Regions from separate parts of the Homo sapiens genome. Here all the other regions are linked to region 3. The links come from fine-mapping of genetic effects on gene expression. A gene starts in region 3. Each other region holds a variant in brackets. All regions are shown on one strand. Distances are from middle to middle. Region 1 overlaps LOC101929161 (a long non-coding RNA gene). Region 2 overlaps LOC101929161 (a long non-coding RNA gene). Region 3 holds the start of SLC34A2 (solute carrier family 34 member 2).

Evidence for each region. PIP is the estimated chance that this variant, and not a neighbour inherited with it, causes the effect.
Region 1: its variant is the best candidate, but not a certain one, in a credible set for the expression of SLC34A2 in nasal epithelium (TOPMed, PIP 0.85).
Region 2: its variant is the best candidate, but not a certain one, in a credible set for the expression of SLC34A2 in lung (TOPMed, PIP 0.58).

Annotation. Positions count from the first base shown.
Region 1 is chr4:25,560,459-25,566,222 of GRCh38, forward strand. All of the region lies in intron 1 of LOC101929161 (a long non-coding RNA gene), which reads right to left. Among named protein-coding and RNA genes, the nearest start is that of SLC34A2, 93 kb to the right of the region's middle. The variant G/A (reference allele first, on the strand shown) is at 2,692.
Region 2 is chr4:25,533,903-25,539,666 of GRCh38, forward strand. It overlaps LOC101929161 (a long non-coding RNA gene), which reads right to left. Exons shown (of 4, transcript NR_134641.1): 3 at 1,288-1,381. Among named protein-coding and RNA genes, the nearest start is that of SLC34A2, 120 kb to the right of the region's middle. RefSeq lists an enhancer at 1,323-1,863. The variant C/T (reference allele first, on the strand shown) is at 2,542.
Region 3 is chr4:25,652,543-25,658,306 of GRCh38, forward strand. SLC34A2 (solute carrier family 34 member 2) reads left to right here and starts at 3,309. Exons shown (of 13, transcript NM_006424.3): 1 at 3,309-3,348. RefSeq lists an enhancer at 2,759-3,672.

The DNA.
Region 1 (5,764 bases), 92 kb before region 3:
GTCTGGGATGAGGACACAGTGGGACCCGGCCCTCCTGCCAAGACCCAATGGGTTACTGCTCTGACAGGGCAGAGGTCCCAACTCCTTTTATTATGATCATGGGGCAGAAATTGTGATGCCGTGGGGCCATGCAGTCACAACTCTTATGCCATTCAGACATCAAGGACAAGGGTTTTCCAGTTCTTTAATAGAAACAAACAAATCAAAGCAGAGTGATTTCTAAACAGAGAAAGAACCCTGATACGGAGTGCAAATCAAGGAGAGTGATTTCTAAACAAAGAGAGAGTCTTAACGTAGCGTGTGTGCGGGCAAGAAAAGACCATGGACGTCACGGGTTGTTACATATGCTCACTGGAGAAGGCAAAGTCACGGTGGGTGTGGTCATGGGAACCTAGGACTGTTGAAAGATTTTCCTGAGAGCTGTCCCTTCCCCTTGGGCAAGTTCCTCAACCTTTCCAGCTGAGGGATTTTTTTCCATCTGTATTTGAGGATAATAATATTTACCTTCTATGGTTCTTGGTAATGAATAGAGGTAATACGTGCAAAATGTTGGACAGAGAGTAGGTATTTAATATTAATAATAGTGATAATAATGTAGTAGCTACCATTTATTGAGCAGCTATTCTGTGCATGCTCAAGCAACCTTATAACCTCATTCCATAGGCACTTTTTTTTTTTTTTAAGACAGAGTCTGGCTCTGTCACCCAGGCTGGAGTACAGTGGCATGATTTCAGCTCACTGCAGCCTCCACCTCCCATATTCAAGTGATTATTCTGCCTCAGCCTCCTGAGTAGCTGAGATTACAGGTGCCTGCCACCACACCCGGCTAATTTTTGTATTTTTAGTAGAGACAGGGTTTTGCCATGTTGGCCAGGCTGGTCTCCAACTGTTGACCTCAAGTGATCCTCCCGCCTCAGCCTCCCAAAGTGCTAGGATTACAGGCATGAGCCACCGCACCCGACCAGCACTCTTGTTAGTTCTATTTTACAAACTCAAAAATGGAGTGTTAAAGAAATATGTTTCTGCAAAGAATAGGTGGCAGGTAAAAAAAAAAGATAAAATAAAAATAAAGGAATATGTTTCTACCCAAGCCATACAGAGAGAGAGTAGAAAGGATTCAGGCCAAAGGTTGGATGCCTGACTCAAGAACCCAGTTGTTAAATTCTTTTATTTTTTAATTTTATTTTTAAATTTATTTTATTTTTAAATTTTATTTTATTTATTTATTTATTTATTTATTTACTTACTTACTGAGACGGAGTCTCGCTCTGTCACCCCGGCTGGAGTGCAGTGGCGCGATCTCAGCTCACTGCAAGCTCCACCTCCTGGGTTCACTCACTCCATTCTCCTCCCTCAGCCTCCCGAGTAGCCGGGACTACAGGCACCTGCCACCATGCCCGGCTAAATTTTTTTTGTATTTTTAGTAGAGACGGGGTTTCACAGCGTTAGCCAGGATGGTCTTGATCTCCTGACCTCGTGATCCACCCGCCTTGGCCTCCCAAAGTGCTGGGATTACAGGTGTGAGCCATTGTGCCCAGCCTAAATTCTTTTCTTTTTTTAATTTGTTTTTTGAGACTGAGTCTCGCTCTGTCGCCCAGGCTGGAGTGCAGTGGCATGATCGTGGCTCACTGCAACCTCCACCTTCTGGGTTCAAGCAATTCTCCTGCCTCAGCCTCCCAAGTAGCTGAGACTACATGTGTGCACCACCATGCCAGGCTAATTTTTGTATTTTTAGTAGTAACAGGATTTCACTATGTTGGCTAGGCTGGTCTTGAACTTCTGACCTCAGGTGATCCACCTGCCTCGGCCTCCCAAGTGCTGGGATTACAGGCATGAGCCACCACACCTGGCCTTAAGTTCTTAATTGCTTCATTTGATGTCTTTTCAAGTAAGTGAAATAGACACATATTTTTCAAATAAAAGTATATATAAAATATATATGTTTTAAGTTAAGTGAAAAAATACATATATTACAATTTTCCAAGTAAGTGAAATATATACAGTCATGTGCTACATAACAACATCTCAGTCAACAATGGACTGCATATATGATTGTGGTGCCATAAGATTATAATACTGTATTTTCATGGTACCTTTTCTATGTTTAGATACACAAATACTTCCCATTGTGTTACAATTTCCTATGTTTAGATTCATAAATACTTCTTATTGTGTTACAGTTGCCTACAGTATTCAGTACAGTCACATGCTGTACAGGTTTGTAGCTGTACCATATATCCTAGGTGTGTAGCAGGCTACGCCATCTAGGTTTGTGAAAGTACACTCTAGGATGATCACACAATGATGAAATTGCCTAATGATGTGTTTCTCTCTCTCTCTTTTTTTTTTTTTTTGAGATGGAGTCTCACTCTGTCACCTGGGCTGGAGTGCAGTGGTGCAGTGGCGCGATCTCGGCTCACTGCATCCTCCACCTCCTGGGTTCAAGTGATTCTCCTGCCTCAGTCTCCTGAATAGCTGGGATTACAGGCATGCACCATCACACCCAGCTAATTTTTGTATTTTTAGTAGAGAGGGGTTTCACCATGTTGGCCAGGCTGGTCTCAAACTTCTGATCTCGTGATTTGCCTGCCTTGGCCTCCCAGAGTGCTGGGATTACAAGCATGAGCCACTGTTCCTGGCCTCAAGCGATTGTCTTGCCTCAGCCTCTTTAGTAGCTGGAACAACAGGCAC[G/A]TGCCAGCATGATTTCGCCATGTTGCCCAGGCTGGTCTCGTGACCTCAAGTGATCTCTCTGCCTTGAGCTCCCAAAGTGCTAGGATTACAGGCATAATCCACAGCACCTGGCCTGAGTACTCTATTTAAAATGCACTCCTCTCCTGTTACTCTTGCTATGGTTTTGTTTACCTTCATAGCAATTAGCCTCACCCGAAGTATCATATTCTACTCATGACTCCTCTGATGTAAGCTCCATGAGGCAGGGGCTGTATTTGGGCCTTTGCTTGTTCCCAGTGCCTGGCATGGAGTTATCTCTAAGTAAATATTTGTTGAATGTCTGGACGTGGTGGTGCATGCCTGTAATTCCAGCACTTTGGGAGGCTGAGGTGGGAGGATCACTTGAGCCCAGTAGGTTGAGGCTGCGGTGAGCCGTGACGACGCCACTAAACTCCAGCCTGAACAACAGAGCAAGACCTCATCTCAAAAAAATTTTTTTATTGTTGTTGAATGAATGCTTGGAGAGCCAAAGGAGCTGATTTAACCCTTCAAAGGCATTAGATCAAACAGGCAGGGCCAGTTTTTCAGATCTGAAAGGGTGTCCAGGAGCTCTTCCCTCTTTCCAGCCCCTCAGTTCAGTTTTCTGGAACAAGAAGGCAACACTACATTTGGATAATCACAGCTTTTTCTCAAAGGCTTTTGACCCTGCAGTTGGTTTTTTGTTTGTTTGTTTGTTTGTTCTGAAACGGCATTTGGCTCTTATCACCAGGCTGGAGTACAAGGGCGTGATGTCGGCTCACTGCAACCTTGGCCTTCCAGGTTCAAGCAATTCTCTTGCCTCAGCCTCCCCAGTAGCTGGGATTACAGGTGTGTGCCACCACGCCCGGTTAATTTTTATATTTTTAGTAGGACAGGGTTTCACTATGTTGGCCAGGCTGGTCTTGAACTCCTGACCTCAGGTGATCTGCCTGCCTCGGCCTCCCAAAGTGCTGGGATTACAGGTGTGAGCTACCATGCCCGGCCAAACATCTTTGATCTCTGACAATCCACCAGACCATTCTGACTACCTGCCCACCTAGTAATTTGTTATTTCCTCCCTTCCTTGATTGTCTCCCCCCCGTTACCAATTAATACCATATTTATTAATTTCCTGCTATGAATATGACACTATCTGCCGATGCTTTATTAAAATGTAAAATGACTCTTCCTCCTCAAGTAGGGTAGAGGCAGTATAGTTTAGTGGTTAAGGCGGATAAGGATACTGATTGACTGAAAGTCTGGGTTCAAACCCTCTTTTTGTTTTGTTTTGTTTGAGACAGGCTCTTGCCCTGTCACCCAGCCTGGAGTGCAGTGGCACTAACACAGCCTGGGTTCAAGCAGTCTCCCCCCTTGGCCTCCCAAAGTGTTGCGATTACTGGTGTGAGCCATTGCACCTGGCTCAAACCCTCTTTTTACTACTTACTAGCCATGTGACTTGTACAAGTCACCTAAACTCCCTAAGCCTCAGGTTTTTTTGTTGTTGTTGTTTTTGTTTTTTTAGATGGAATCTCGCTCTGTCACCCAGGCTGGAGTGCGGTGGCAAGATCTCGGCTCACAGCAACCTCCGCCTCCCAGGTTCAAGCAATTCTCCTGTCTCAGCCTCCCAAGCAGCTGGGATTACAGGCACATGCTGGCACGCCTGGCAAATTTTTCGTATTTTAGTAGAGATGGGGTTTCACCGTGTTGCCCAGGCTGGTCTCAAACTCCTGAGCTCAGTCAATCCACCTGCCTTGGTCTCCCAAAGTGCTAGGATTACAGGCGTGAGCCACCGCGCCTGGCCCAGCCTGTTTTTAATCTCAGAAATGGAGATGACAACAGTACCTACTGCTGGGGAACCACGAGTTTGTTACAGTAAGCTACCAGGGCCGTGCTCGGCACAATGCTACCACTAGATGACCTTTCATGGCTAACATAGAATCGTATCGTGTGCCCGGCTCAGTGGCTCATGCCTGTAATCCCACCACTTTGGGAGACTGAGACGGGTGGATCACATGAGGTCAGCAGTTTCAGACCAGCCTGATCAACAAGGTGAAACCCCGCCTCTACTAAAAACACAAAAATGAACTGGGCATGGTGGCGCATGCCTGTAATCCCAGCTACTCGGGAGGCTGAGGCAGGAGAATCAATCGAACCTGAGAAGAGGAGGTTGCAGTGAGCTGAGATTACACCATTGCACTCCAGCCTGGGCAACAGGGGCGAAATTCTGTCTCAAAAAATAAAAAATAAAAAAGAATCATATTGTGAAGAGTGTCGATGCATCGATAAAAACTGAAATAACAATACGTGGATTGGGTGACTCAGTGCAGTATTTATACACACATGTGGACACAGGGGACATCCTGGTATAATGGAAAGAGCATGTGTTCTGGAACCATGCTGACCTGTGCAGGAGTGCCCACTCTAGCTTTTGCTAGCTGTGAGATCTTGAGACCTCCCTCACCCACAGTTTCCTTGTTTGCATAACATGGACCTGAATTTTTGCTTATCAGAGTATTTGTGAAGATTTAACAAGATGCTCATTTCCTTCCCTATGAATGTCTATTGCTGTTTAGAAATCCTGATGAAAAGGCAAAGACCGTTCTGATTGACTTGGGAAGTGGGTATGAAGTCAATACCTCACTTGGCTAATCAGAAAGATTCCTTTCAGTGAACGGGATTAGAGTTTTGATTGAAAAAAAAGCTACCGGGTGCAGTGGCTCATGCCTGTAATCCCAACACTCTGGGAGGCCAAGGCAGGCAGATCACCTGAGGTCAGGAGTTCGAGACCAGCCTGGCCAATTGGTGAAACCCCATCTCTACAAAATATTCAAAAATTAGCTGGGCATGGTGGCATGTGCCTGCAGTTTAGCTACTTGGGGGGCTGAGGCATGAGAATTGCTTGAACCTGGGAGGCAGAGGTTGCAGTGAACCAAGATTGTGCCACTGCACTCCAGCCTGGACAACAGAGCAAGACCCTGTCTCAAAAAAAAAAAAAGAAGGAAGGAAGGAAAGAAAGAAGCTAAAGAAAAATTGTTCTATCAAAACAGAATAAAAGAGGATAATGATTTAGTCAAGG
Region 2 (5,764 bases), 120 kb before region 3:
TTTCCACTTAATATTTTCCATGGTTTGTGGACATTTAAGATTCATAAATCTTGCACAGATTTTTGTGCCGCAGGAAGGAGATGCCAGAGCTTGCCTACTTATCACTTGTTGAGCACTGAATCTCTGACCATTGACAGGACTGTCTGGCTCACAGTTGTTTATGGGCAAAGAAGTGATTCTGAAAGTAAACAGGGAAAGAAACAAAAGTCCCTGATTAGGCCAGGAGCGGTGGCTCACGCCTATAATCCCAGCACTTTGGGTGGCCGAGGCAAGTGGATCACTTGAGGCCAGGGGTTCAAGACCAGCCTGGCCAACATGGCGAAACCCCATCTCTACTAAAAATACAAAAAATTAGCCGGGCATGGTGGCACACACCTGTAGTCCCAGCTACTCGGGAGGCTGAAGCAGGGAGGCAGAGGTTGCAGAGAGCCACCATTGCACCACTGCACTCCAGCCTGGGCAACAAAACAAGATCCCGTCTCAAAAAAAAAAAAAAAAAAAAAGAATTAGCTGGGAATGGTGGCCTGAGCCTGTAATCCCAGCTACTCCAGAGGCTGTGGCAGGAGAATCGCTTAAACCCAGGAGGTGGAGATTGCAGTGAATAGAGGTACCACACCACTGCACTCCAGCCTGGCGACAGTGTGAGATTCCGTCTCAAAAAAGAAAACAAAAAAAAAAGTCCCTAATAAGACTTAAAATCTCTAAAACATAAGTTTAATTCCTTATTTTTATCATTCACTCAATTATCACTCATTCATTTTATACTATTTACAGCTAGACATATCTGGGCTTTTGACTCAGCTCTGTCACTTACCAGCTGAGGGACTTTATGCCAGTGACTTGTTTCTCTTGGCCTGTTTTACCATCTGTAAAATGGGTAATAATGCCTGTCCGGGTTGTTAAGAGATTAAACTTAAGTGCATGAAGCACCTTTCCCATCTGACCTTTGAATCTCCTCTCTTCTGTTGGTTGAGCAACATGGCAGGCTTGACTGAATTATCCACACAGTGGCCTGTAATTTGGCTTTGTTGATGAGTGGATGAAGACACAGAGAATGCAACTGGTGGAAAACAGAGTGGCTTACGAGCTCAGAACTGGAGCCAGAAGAAGAACACGGGCCTTTGTTCCTTCCAGTGGTCTAACATGTCTCGTTAGGTCTTCTGCCCAGTGGAGTTCAGAAAGCCATGCAAGCACATCTCACTCTTCACCATGTTTTTGTGTGGGAGTGGTCAAACATCATTTCAATTTCAGAGCTGCACTTAGAAAAATGACCATTAAGACTCTTACCTTTTTCCCCTGTAACTTCAGCAATGCTTCTTAAAGAGTTTTCATTTTTGTCTAGTCGCTACTTTCTCATTCCTCCCAGTGCTTTCCTCTGGGTCTAAGAATGAAGGAAGAAGCCCTTTTGAGGTCTCCAGCACTAACCATGTCACCTCAGTGAATTCCATGGGCCATTAGGCAGCCAGTCAGCAGCATGTATGTCCTTGCTATCAGCAGGACATGGAATATGGGGGAGGAGAAGTCATTTCTCTCCTGCTGATTCAACATTCATTAACGTGTTAGCAACAGAGGGGGCATTGTTAACTGCAGCTCCCATCTGAACTACAGACTTCCTAGAAAGATTAATGCTATCTTCAATATGAAACAACAACAACAACAAAATGGTTACAACCAGTCCTTTCAGAAAAGCAGGCAAAGATGTGCTGTTTTACTCCTCCCAGACCCCTTGCTTCTCCTATTTCGACCACATTTGAAAAAGGATTTCTCTGTTTCAACCATGAATAATACTCTATTGTCCAGCACATTGCAGCGACTTAATTTCCTTTGTGCATGGACCTTTTTGACAACCAGTAGGCACTGGAGAAACTAATACCATCCAGGGTCCATCATCTTCTTCCTCTTTTTTTCCTTTTTCGAGATGAAGTTTTGCTCTTTCACCCAGGCTGGAGTGAAGTGGTGCAATCTCAGCTCACTGCAAACTCTGTCACCCCCACCCGCCCCGGTTCAGCGATTCTCCTGCCTCAGCCTCCTGGGATTACAGGTGCCCACCACCGTGCCTAGCTAATTTTCATATTTTTAGTAGAGACAGGGTTTCTCCATGTTGGTCAGGCTGGTCTCCAACTCCTGACCTCAGGTGATCCGCCCACCTCGGCCTCCTATAGTGCTGGGATTACAAGCATGAGCCACTGTGCCAGGACTCCATCATCTTCTTTACAGTGAAGTCCAAATGGTCTCAACTTCCTCACTTCTTTACTTACCTCTTAATCCCCTGCCATTTAGGGTTGGCCCTTGACACTGCCCTGAGCCTGTTCCTGCCAAGATCACAATGTCAATAAACGCTGTGGTCACTCTTCTGCCCTCCTCTTCCCTGACCTCCCTATGGTGTTACCCAACCTTCAGCCACTTTCTGCCTCTTGAAAAGTTCCATTCCTCAGCTTCCTGGTCTGCAAATATTCCTCTTTCCTCTTGCATTTTTGGCACTTCCTTATCACTCTTCCTGGGCTCTTCTTTTCTCTGCCAACTCTTCAGCTCAGATGTTGC[C/T]GAACATTTTCTTTTTTTCTTTTTGCAGTGGAACCTTTTTTTTTTTTTAAACAAATGAGATTTTATGTATATTCGAACCCAATATAAAACACAGAAAACCACAGTTGCTATGGTTGAAATCATGGGTGGCACTTTCCCTCCTCTTATCTCCTCTCCCAGAATCCCCAAGAGCTCCTCTCCAGAATCCTGGGCCTCTGAGAAGCCACAGCCTATGTGATGAGGTTCTATGTGGGTCTTTACGCCTCACTCCACTCATGCATCCTGGATGGCCCCAACCCTCCTGGCGTAACAATGACTATCCTTTTCTCCAAATGTGCTGTGTGTGGAGGGGCAATAAACAAATGCTCTTTTCTTTCTTCAATGCTTCTTTCAAGCATTTGAAAAATGAGAGGAGGCAGATGGAGAGCGAAAAATGTCAGCTTTATTGCTGACAAAGCTGCGTAGAGAATGTCTTTACATAATTAGCCTAATGGGTTTGCTATCTTTCCTAGAGTTAACTCTCCCATCAGTCCTGGGCAGAACTGGAATTCCCAGGCATTTATACAGAAGAGATGAGGTTCTCCCAAACTCACCAATCAAAAGTCACTCCTTCTCCCATGGGGAAGAGTGGGCACAGAGACCAGGAACACTAACCTCAGCCAACAACGATGGCTCCACTCCCTGGGGGTGTCTTGTGGTTTGTGAGGCACTGAGGCATTTAGTGTACGGGGAACTGTGATACCAGGCATCCTCAAACACACAGAACAACTCAACACATGAAAGAATTGTCCAGGTGCAGTGGCTCACACCTGTAATCCCAGCACTTTGGGAGGTCGAGGCAGGTGGATCACCTGAGGTCAGGAGTTCAAGAGCAGCCTGGCCAACATAGTGAAACCCCATCTCTACAAAAGTATGAAAATTAGCCAGGCAGGATGGCGGGTGTCTGTAATCCCAGCTACTCAGGAGGCTGAGGCAGGAGAATCACTTGAACCGGGGAGGCAGAGGTTTGAGTTGAGATCGCACCATTGCACTGCAGCCTGGACTACAGAGTGAGACTCTGTCTAAAAAAAAAAAAAAAAAAAAATTCTCCTGAATCTTGCATGACCTTTGAACATCTGATCGGACATTCCATACATAGGTGAATGAGGATATAATTATCTGTATCTAGGCTGGATGCCATGGCTTATGCCTGTAATCCCAGCACCTTGGGAGGATGAGGCAGGGGGATCACCTGAGGTCAGCAGTTCAAGACCAGCCGGGCCAACATGGTGAAACTCCGTCTTTACTAAAAATAAAAATTAGCTGGGTGTGGTGGTGCACGTCTGTAATCCCAGCTACTCAGGAGGCTGAGGCAGGAGAATCACTTGAGCCTGGGAGGCGGAGGTTGCAATGAGCTGAAATCGTGCCACTGCACTCCAGCCTGGGCGACAGATTGAGACTCCGTCCAAAAAATAAATAAATAAGTAAATATATATATGTATATATAAAATCTGTTTCTAGAACATTAATCTATTTTTACATACTGAAAGTACTTTTTGCACAGTTTTTTTTCTTTTCTTTTCTCTTTTTTCTTTTTGAGACAGAATGTTACTCTGTCTCCCGGGCTGGAGTGCAGTGGCGCAATCTTAGCTCACACTGCAACCTCTGCCTCTCGAGTTCAAGTGATTCTGGCACCTCAGCCTCCTGAGTAGCTGGGATCACAGGTGCGAGTCACCAGGCCTGGCTAATTTTTGTATTTTTAGTAGAGATGGGGTTTGGCCATGTTGGCCAGGCTGGTCTCAAACTCCTGACTTCACGCGATCCACCTGCCTCGGCCTCCCAGAATGCTGGGATTACAGGCATGAGCGACCGTGCCCTGCCTTTTACAGTTTTTATACGCACTATATACTGAATTTTCTAGAAAAGCAAATACTACACAAATTGAACGCTGATTATACTTTCATAGATTGAGAACTTACCTGAGGGTTGTTCAATAATTTAGAAAATTATGAAATTTTCTGATGACAACGGCTCCTGTAGTATTTTCACCATTAATGCAATAACACATTCCTGTATTGGTTGGTATCCGTGGCTGTTGCACTTACAGTGAGAACATCTGACTGCTCCTTTGTGGCTTCCGGTAAACTTCCACCCAAATATTGCTCAGATGCATGCAGATCCCTGCAGGCGCCATGGTTCTCTTTCCCCCTGGCCTTTGCACTTCCTGTGCTTCCTGCACTTATCTGAGGAGTGTCCCTGAGTATGAAGGAAGAGTACCTCCTCTAGGTTTCCAGAGTGTTGCTCACTCTGCATCTGAGTCTCTGTCTGTCTGCTGCCTCTGCCACCAGACCTTAAGTTCTGCCAGGGTAAGGACCCATGCACACTGCTGGCTTCTGCATCCCTAGTGCCTGACCCAGGTTCAGGCACACGATAAGCAACCCTTCCCTCGATATATATCTTCGCATCAAGATAAATAGCATCTATTTGAAAAGCTATAAATCTCTGGTCCATCAGGAACTAATGGTGGAATCTTCCCATCAAAGTCAATCGCAGGCAAACTAAAGGTGAAATAAAGGTCTCAGCAAAAAGGAAATTTTTCCTCCCAAGATGATCTTAGGAGGCCTTGTCTTTCATTCTTTAGTGTTTCTGCCAGAAAATCAATTGTTAAATTATTCATTGAGTCAGATCAGGTCATTTTGAAAGTAATCTTCAGAGTGAGTGAATCTTTATCAAAGTTGACACTATTCCTGATATCTGAACAGATTAGTTTTATAATTTAATACTTAATCTGTCCACAAAACACAATGAGAAAAAAATGCTGCAGTAACCTGGGTATTGAAGGACTCGCCTTCTTGATTGTTTTTATTCTCTTTTTACCTTATCAGGTGAATAAAACTTGAAAGTAATAAAAAGAGACTCATAAAACAATGCTCATTTTGATTTACACTTCTAACCCCTTAATTATCAGCAGCTTAACTGTCTCTCCTGATTTCCATCTGACTTCAGGCTGAGCGACAGGGTGCACTCATTGACTCAGAGACACTGGCAGGGGTCATAGAGGTTATCCGTATCTATAAGTCAGACCAGGTGAGTTCAAAGTCACCAAGGTGAAGCTGCATGCATGGGTTCTGCTCTTGACTCCTTAGTTTGTGGCCTTGGAGAGGCACCCCCTCTCAGAACTTCCTTTTCTTTCTTTCTTTTTTTTAAATTTAACAGAAGCAGGGTCTCCCTATGTTGCCCTGGTCTCAAACTCCTGAGCTGGAGG
Region 3 (5,764 bases):
TCACTCCTGTGGAATCTCTCTGCCACTTTGTTGTAAAGAAAGTCAGCCCCAGTGAAGGGTAAAAAGAAGTGCCAGAGGGCCTTGGGGACAAGCCATATACTGGTAGAAAGGGCACTGGGGCAGGGTCCGAACAGCTGAGAGTATGTCTAGCACCAGGATGAAAATCAGTAGTTCACAGAGCTGCTTTGTTTGACCTACTCCGTATTTTTTTAATGGTACATTTCACATAAAGACCTGTATATCTGGCTTCCCCACAAAAGTCAAGATCTGACAGCATCTGACTATATTTTCTCATGCAATATCTGAAGCTGGGTAGCAGCCAGCCCTGGATGGGGTGTTTCCTCTCCAGATTAACACAGAGCCTACCAACTTGTTAAATCTCACCTCATAGGACAATAGGCGCAAAAATATACTGAAATGAGTTGAAAAAATGGTAATACTTTTTTTTTTTGAGACAGAGTCTCACTCTGTCGCCCAGGCTGGAGTGCAGTGGCACGATCTTGGCTCACTGCAAGCTCTGCCTCCCAGGTTCATGCCATTCTCCTGCCTCAGCCTCCTGAGTAGCTGGGACTACAGGCACCCGCCACCATGCCCGGCTAATTTTTTTTTGTATTTTTAGTAGAGACAGGGTTTCACTGTGTTAGCCAGGATCATCTCGATCTCCTGACCTTGTGTTCCGCCCGTCTCGGCCTCCCAAAATGCTGGGATTACAGGCTTGAGCCACTGTGCCCGGTTTGGTGACACTTTTTTGATGAAAGTATTTTTTTTTAATTTAATTTTTTTGAGACAGATTCTTATTCTGTCATCCAGGCTGGATTGCAGTTAGCTCTCACTGCAACTTCCGCCTCCCGGGTTCAAGTGATTCTTGTGACTCAGCCTCCTGAGCAGCTGGGATTTTTTTATATTTTTAGCAGAGACGGGGTTTCGCCATGTTGGTAGACGGGTCTCCAACTCCTGGCTTCAAGTGATCTGCCTGCCTCGGCCTCCCAAACTGTTGGGATTACAGATGTGAGCCACCACACCCAGCCTCGATGAAAGTATTTTAGATGTTTGTATTTATACATAAGGCTCTATGTTTGAAGTACTAAATGGTGAGAGTATTTTGTATCTCAGATGGAATAACGATAGGAAAATGTTCTTCAGCAAATTGTACTCTCCTAAAGGGAGAGATTATAGAGTGATGAACACAGACACGCCATCTACCTTTCCTCCAGACTTTGTAAAAAAAAATTATATAAATTACAATCCCAAACTAGAATCAGATACCATCCCTGATCTACTACCAAGATCTATACACATTAAGAGAACAATGTTCGGGATTGAACCTGTTTTGCCTTTTTAATCGGAACACAAAAGGGATACCTTTTTCTTTCTCCAAGTTTTTGAAATTTTGGTCTCCCTCCTACATTCACTCCTTGTTGAAAGTAATGGAAAGGCAATTAGGTCTGTGTCCCAAATGAAAGCCCACAGTCAGGAGGGGATTCTCATTGAGGTGACTGTCCTGTTAAGACCTGCTCCTGTGAACCCCCAAGCACAGGGCAGAGCAGGACATGAACTAAGAGCCAGGCTTTGCCGAATCCGGGTCGAGTTCACCGACAGCAGTGTGTGCAGCACGCTTCCTCCTCTGCACCCTGGCAGTAGAGCCCTTCCTCATTGTAAAGCCAAGTGGTGTCTGCAGTCCGCCTTGCCCAGGGCTGGAGGCAGAGCTGAGCTTGGTGAACAGGTGCCAGGGGATTCCTGTCATCAGTGGACTATGCTTTAGAAGCTGCTTGTTGCAAAGGTACTGGTTGATCATTGTCTGAGAGTTGGATCTGAAGGCCAACACCCACTAGCAAAACCATCATCCCTGTAATAACAGCAACCCAAGCAGATTTGATTTCTCCAGTGAAGGTTCTAGATGAGTCTAATCAAGGCTTCCCACCCATCTTCTCCCAACACCAGAGTTTCCCTGTGAAAACGATCATGGTTAACTCGCACTGAATACTATTTATGTGCCAAGTACCATTCCACATTCTTTACATATTTTAGCTCACTTTACTCCAACGGGGACCATTATTCCCAGTTTGCACATAAGCAAATGGAGCCAGGGAAAGCAAGGGGCAGAACAGGGAACTGATTTCCCGGAGTTTCGGCCCAGAGTCAGTGTGCTTAGCCACCGCCAACACCAGCCCCAGAGCTCTAGGCTCCTGGAAGTCGTGCTCCCGAGTCCTTCCCCTTGCACAGTGGAGAGAACTCGATGTTGGAATGAAACCAGCTAATTCCAGTAGGGTGCTTCCGCTGTTGTGAGGAGCTGGGCAACTAGTAAGCTCACTGAGCCTCACTGTGCTCCACTATAAAACCAGGAGAGTGCGCAGCAGAGGAGAGGGTCTGGGTTTCAGAATAAGAAGCAGGTTTTCTTCCTGCTCAGCAAATCCTGGGTAATTGTATCATATCCCCTAACCCCTTAAACCTCAGCTAGAGAGGGCGCCAGTCTTAGCCCCAGGGAAGGCTTTCGTGTGCACATTGGAGACAAAGCCTGCCCAGCAGTGCCCGGCACAGAACTGGGGAGCTGTTGGGATAAGCATGGGGGTGGACTCTCCCTGGGACAGATCCTATCTCACAGCAGTTTGGAGAACTGTTGTATACACACGCAGGTGACACGAGGCAGAGCAGGATGTGAAACGAGCGCAGTGGTTTGCCAAACCCGCAGCAGGCTTAGGACGGAGTGGTGAGAACAGCCCCCTTCCTTTTCCTCAGCTTGACGGTCCCAGCCTTTCCCATTGCGGACCTAGAGCCCAGACTCCCAGGGCAGAAAGCGCCCCACAGACTGATAAAGGTGAACAATCCAGGCTTTGTTTCCAAGGGCTTTATCCCTGACTTTCCAACTGGCTTTTATCTGTGTCTTCACGTCTCTGACCTCTTGAGCCTCACAGGAGCTAGACTAGAAGGTTCAAGTTCTTGAGGAGAAGGCAGGGGCGGGAGAGCCCCACTTGCGGGAATCTCGTGCGGACCGAGTCGGGGCGGGAGAGGGCGCGCACCAGCCAGGCTAGGGCGCGCGGGGCGCCGAGGGGCGCGGGGCCGTTTGGGGCCGTTCGGGCCAGTTCGCGCGGCGGGGCCCGTCGGAGCTTTTCTCTCGGCAGCCTGGCTGGCCGCGCGTCTTCTCCGCGCAGCGGGCGAAGTCGCGATGGGTTCATTAAGGCGGCAGGTAGGCAGTGCCCCGGCGGCGGCTGCGGCAGGCGGTCCTGGAATGTGCGAGGGGCGTGATGACAGCGGCCAGCCTCTTTGCGCAACACCTTCGCCATATATACCCGGGGCGCTGCGCTCCACCTGGCCGCCGCCTCCAGCCCAGCACCTGCGGAGGGAGCGCTGGTGAGTACCGCCGCCGGGGCAGGGGCGCTTCCTCGCTCTTTCAAGGACTTTGATTCACTTAATTCTTGCAAATACCTCTCGGTGCTGACTTCAAGGAACTTGGCTGGCTTTGGGCCGCAGAAGTGAAAAACACAAAGCTCTCCACAATGTTCAAGTTGTTTTCTTCTTAATGTTACGGTTATTGCTTTTATTACAGCTTTTGCTGCTACACTCTTACGATCGACAGTGTTATTAATCAGCCACACTTGTGGATTCTAAAATGATCACTGTTTTGAGAGTCGTGGTTTGGAAGAGGAAAGGCCCAGGGGATAGAAATCTCCACCTAGGAATCAGGATAGCTAGGCTCTTTGTGGCTGGGTCACCAACTAGCCATGTGACAACGCTAGTCCCTGTGAGCCCCTGGGCTGCCGTCTTCCATTCTTTATAAGAAGGGGAATGCGACATCTCAGGACCATGAAAATTCTAGGTTTGTGGTGGCTGCCTGGTGATGTGACACTGCCCCCCACCCAAGTGTGACTTCCACGTGGTACAGTGCTTGTTTGCAGTTATTTAAGGTGCCTAGGAGACAGTCTTAGTTTGTTTCTATTAGGGCCCGTGGCCATCAGCGAAGGGTCCGTCCTTCAGCCGTCTTGGGGAGCAAAGCCCGCAATTTATGTTTTCCAAGCCACAAATGGGTGAGCAGGCTGGGGAGATAACTTACAAGGAGATGTGCACAGGAGTGGTTGGGTTCGGGGACTGCGCATCCTCAGGCCAGAAAGTTGGGGGCTGCATGGCATGGAGTTAGTTCAGGTTCCCTGCAACGGTGCCTGCCACCGGTGGCTCGCACTGCGCTGAAGAGAGTTGGAATCTCGTTTTCTTTGAGGAGGTCCCTTTTTCAAACATGTTGATTTCATGGAAGCAGCTTGTGGATTTCATCACTCGAGTCCCCTCTTCCTGTTTGGGTGCCCCAGGGGGTTTCTGTGTTAGCCCTGATCGCTCTGGGCCTTGTCGTTCTTTCCTTTTTCCTTCTTCCCTTGTGTGCTGGCAGTTCTTTAACTTGTCCTGGGTTGGGTATTCTTGGAAAACTGTGCTTGTAGGAGTGGCCGTTGTTTCAGATTGTTAAAGAAAAACAAAAATAAAAAAGATTGCCTCTTTTGTCCCATGCCCGCTGATCATGATCTTCTCTGCTTTTGTAATTTGGGGAATGGGTGATAAGAAAGGCGTGCTTTGTAAAAGGTTTGGATGCTAAACAAATTGCCCCATCCAAAACTCCCCAAATTGCTCAACTGTCTCAATGAAGCAAGTCCCCTGTGGTATGAGGATGGGCTTCTGATTGTTGCTGTTAGACACAAAGGGGACAAAAAAATAGCCCGAATTCAATGCAATGAGGAAAACAGCCTCACAGAATCAGAGTGCTTTGGAATAAACTGGGCTTTAGTAACCAGTTTCAGGCATCTTCCACTCCTCCATCCTCACCCACACCCCCACTTCCATTCTGGGGACCGCAGGGAGCAATCAGGACATCCCAGGGAATTTATTCATCTCAGTGAATTTTTAAAATGCAAAGGTACAAAAAGAGGGCTATAAAAAGATTGCGGTATTTTTAAGATGTTTATATTTACAAATTTAACTGCTTTAACCTCCCCCCCCAATACAATGCAGCACAACTGATATAGTTACAAGTTATTTACAGGATTTATTTTAAGATATCATAAATACAAATTGATAGTGCATGGTGAGGGTGTGGTTTGGTGATATGGCCCAAGTTTAAAGTTTATTAGTGTGCCACATCAAAAATGTAAACTCAAGTTATCTATCAATGTGAGGCCCAGGCCAATTGCTTCCTTGACTCCTCTCATCACTACCACCATTGTGTCCTTGAAGAGATTATTATTAGCAGTAATGTAGGGACAGGGTCTCACTATGTTGTCTAAGCTGGTCTCAAACTCACAGGTTCAAGGGACTCTCCCACTTTGGCCTCCCAAAGTGCTGGGATTATAGGTGTGAGCCACCACCCTTAGCCTATAGGGGTGATTATTTTTCCTTGTGATGGCTGTAAGGGAAGCAGAGGAAAAGGAGACGTCACCCTCTTGGGAATTTTTGAAGCACAGAGTCATTCTTTCAAAGTACAAGAAAGTTTTCCTGGGCATCCCGAGAACACTGGCCTGCATGAGGTTGAAATTATCTCTGCAGTGTTGTGGTGCCTATGTGATTTGAAGCCATTAACCTCTCTGTGGCTCAGTTTTTCCCTCTATAGAATGAGGATACTGTTCATTTTAAAGGAGACTCTAAGTTTACATAGATACATGAAATGCTGTGAGTAAATTTGTGCACCAATTTGCAAGTGCCAGGCACAAAGTCTTTAATAAACACTACTTGGCTACCATGTGCCCAGCACTGTCCTATGTGCTGGGGATACAATGGCCATACTCTAGTC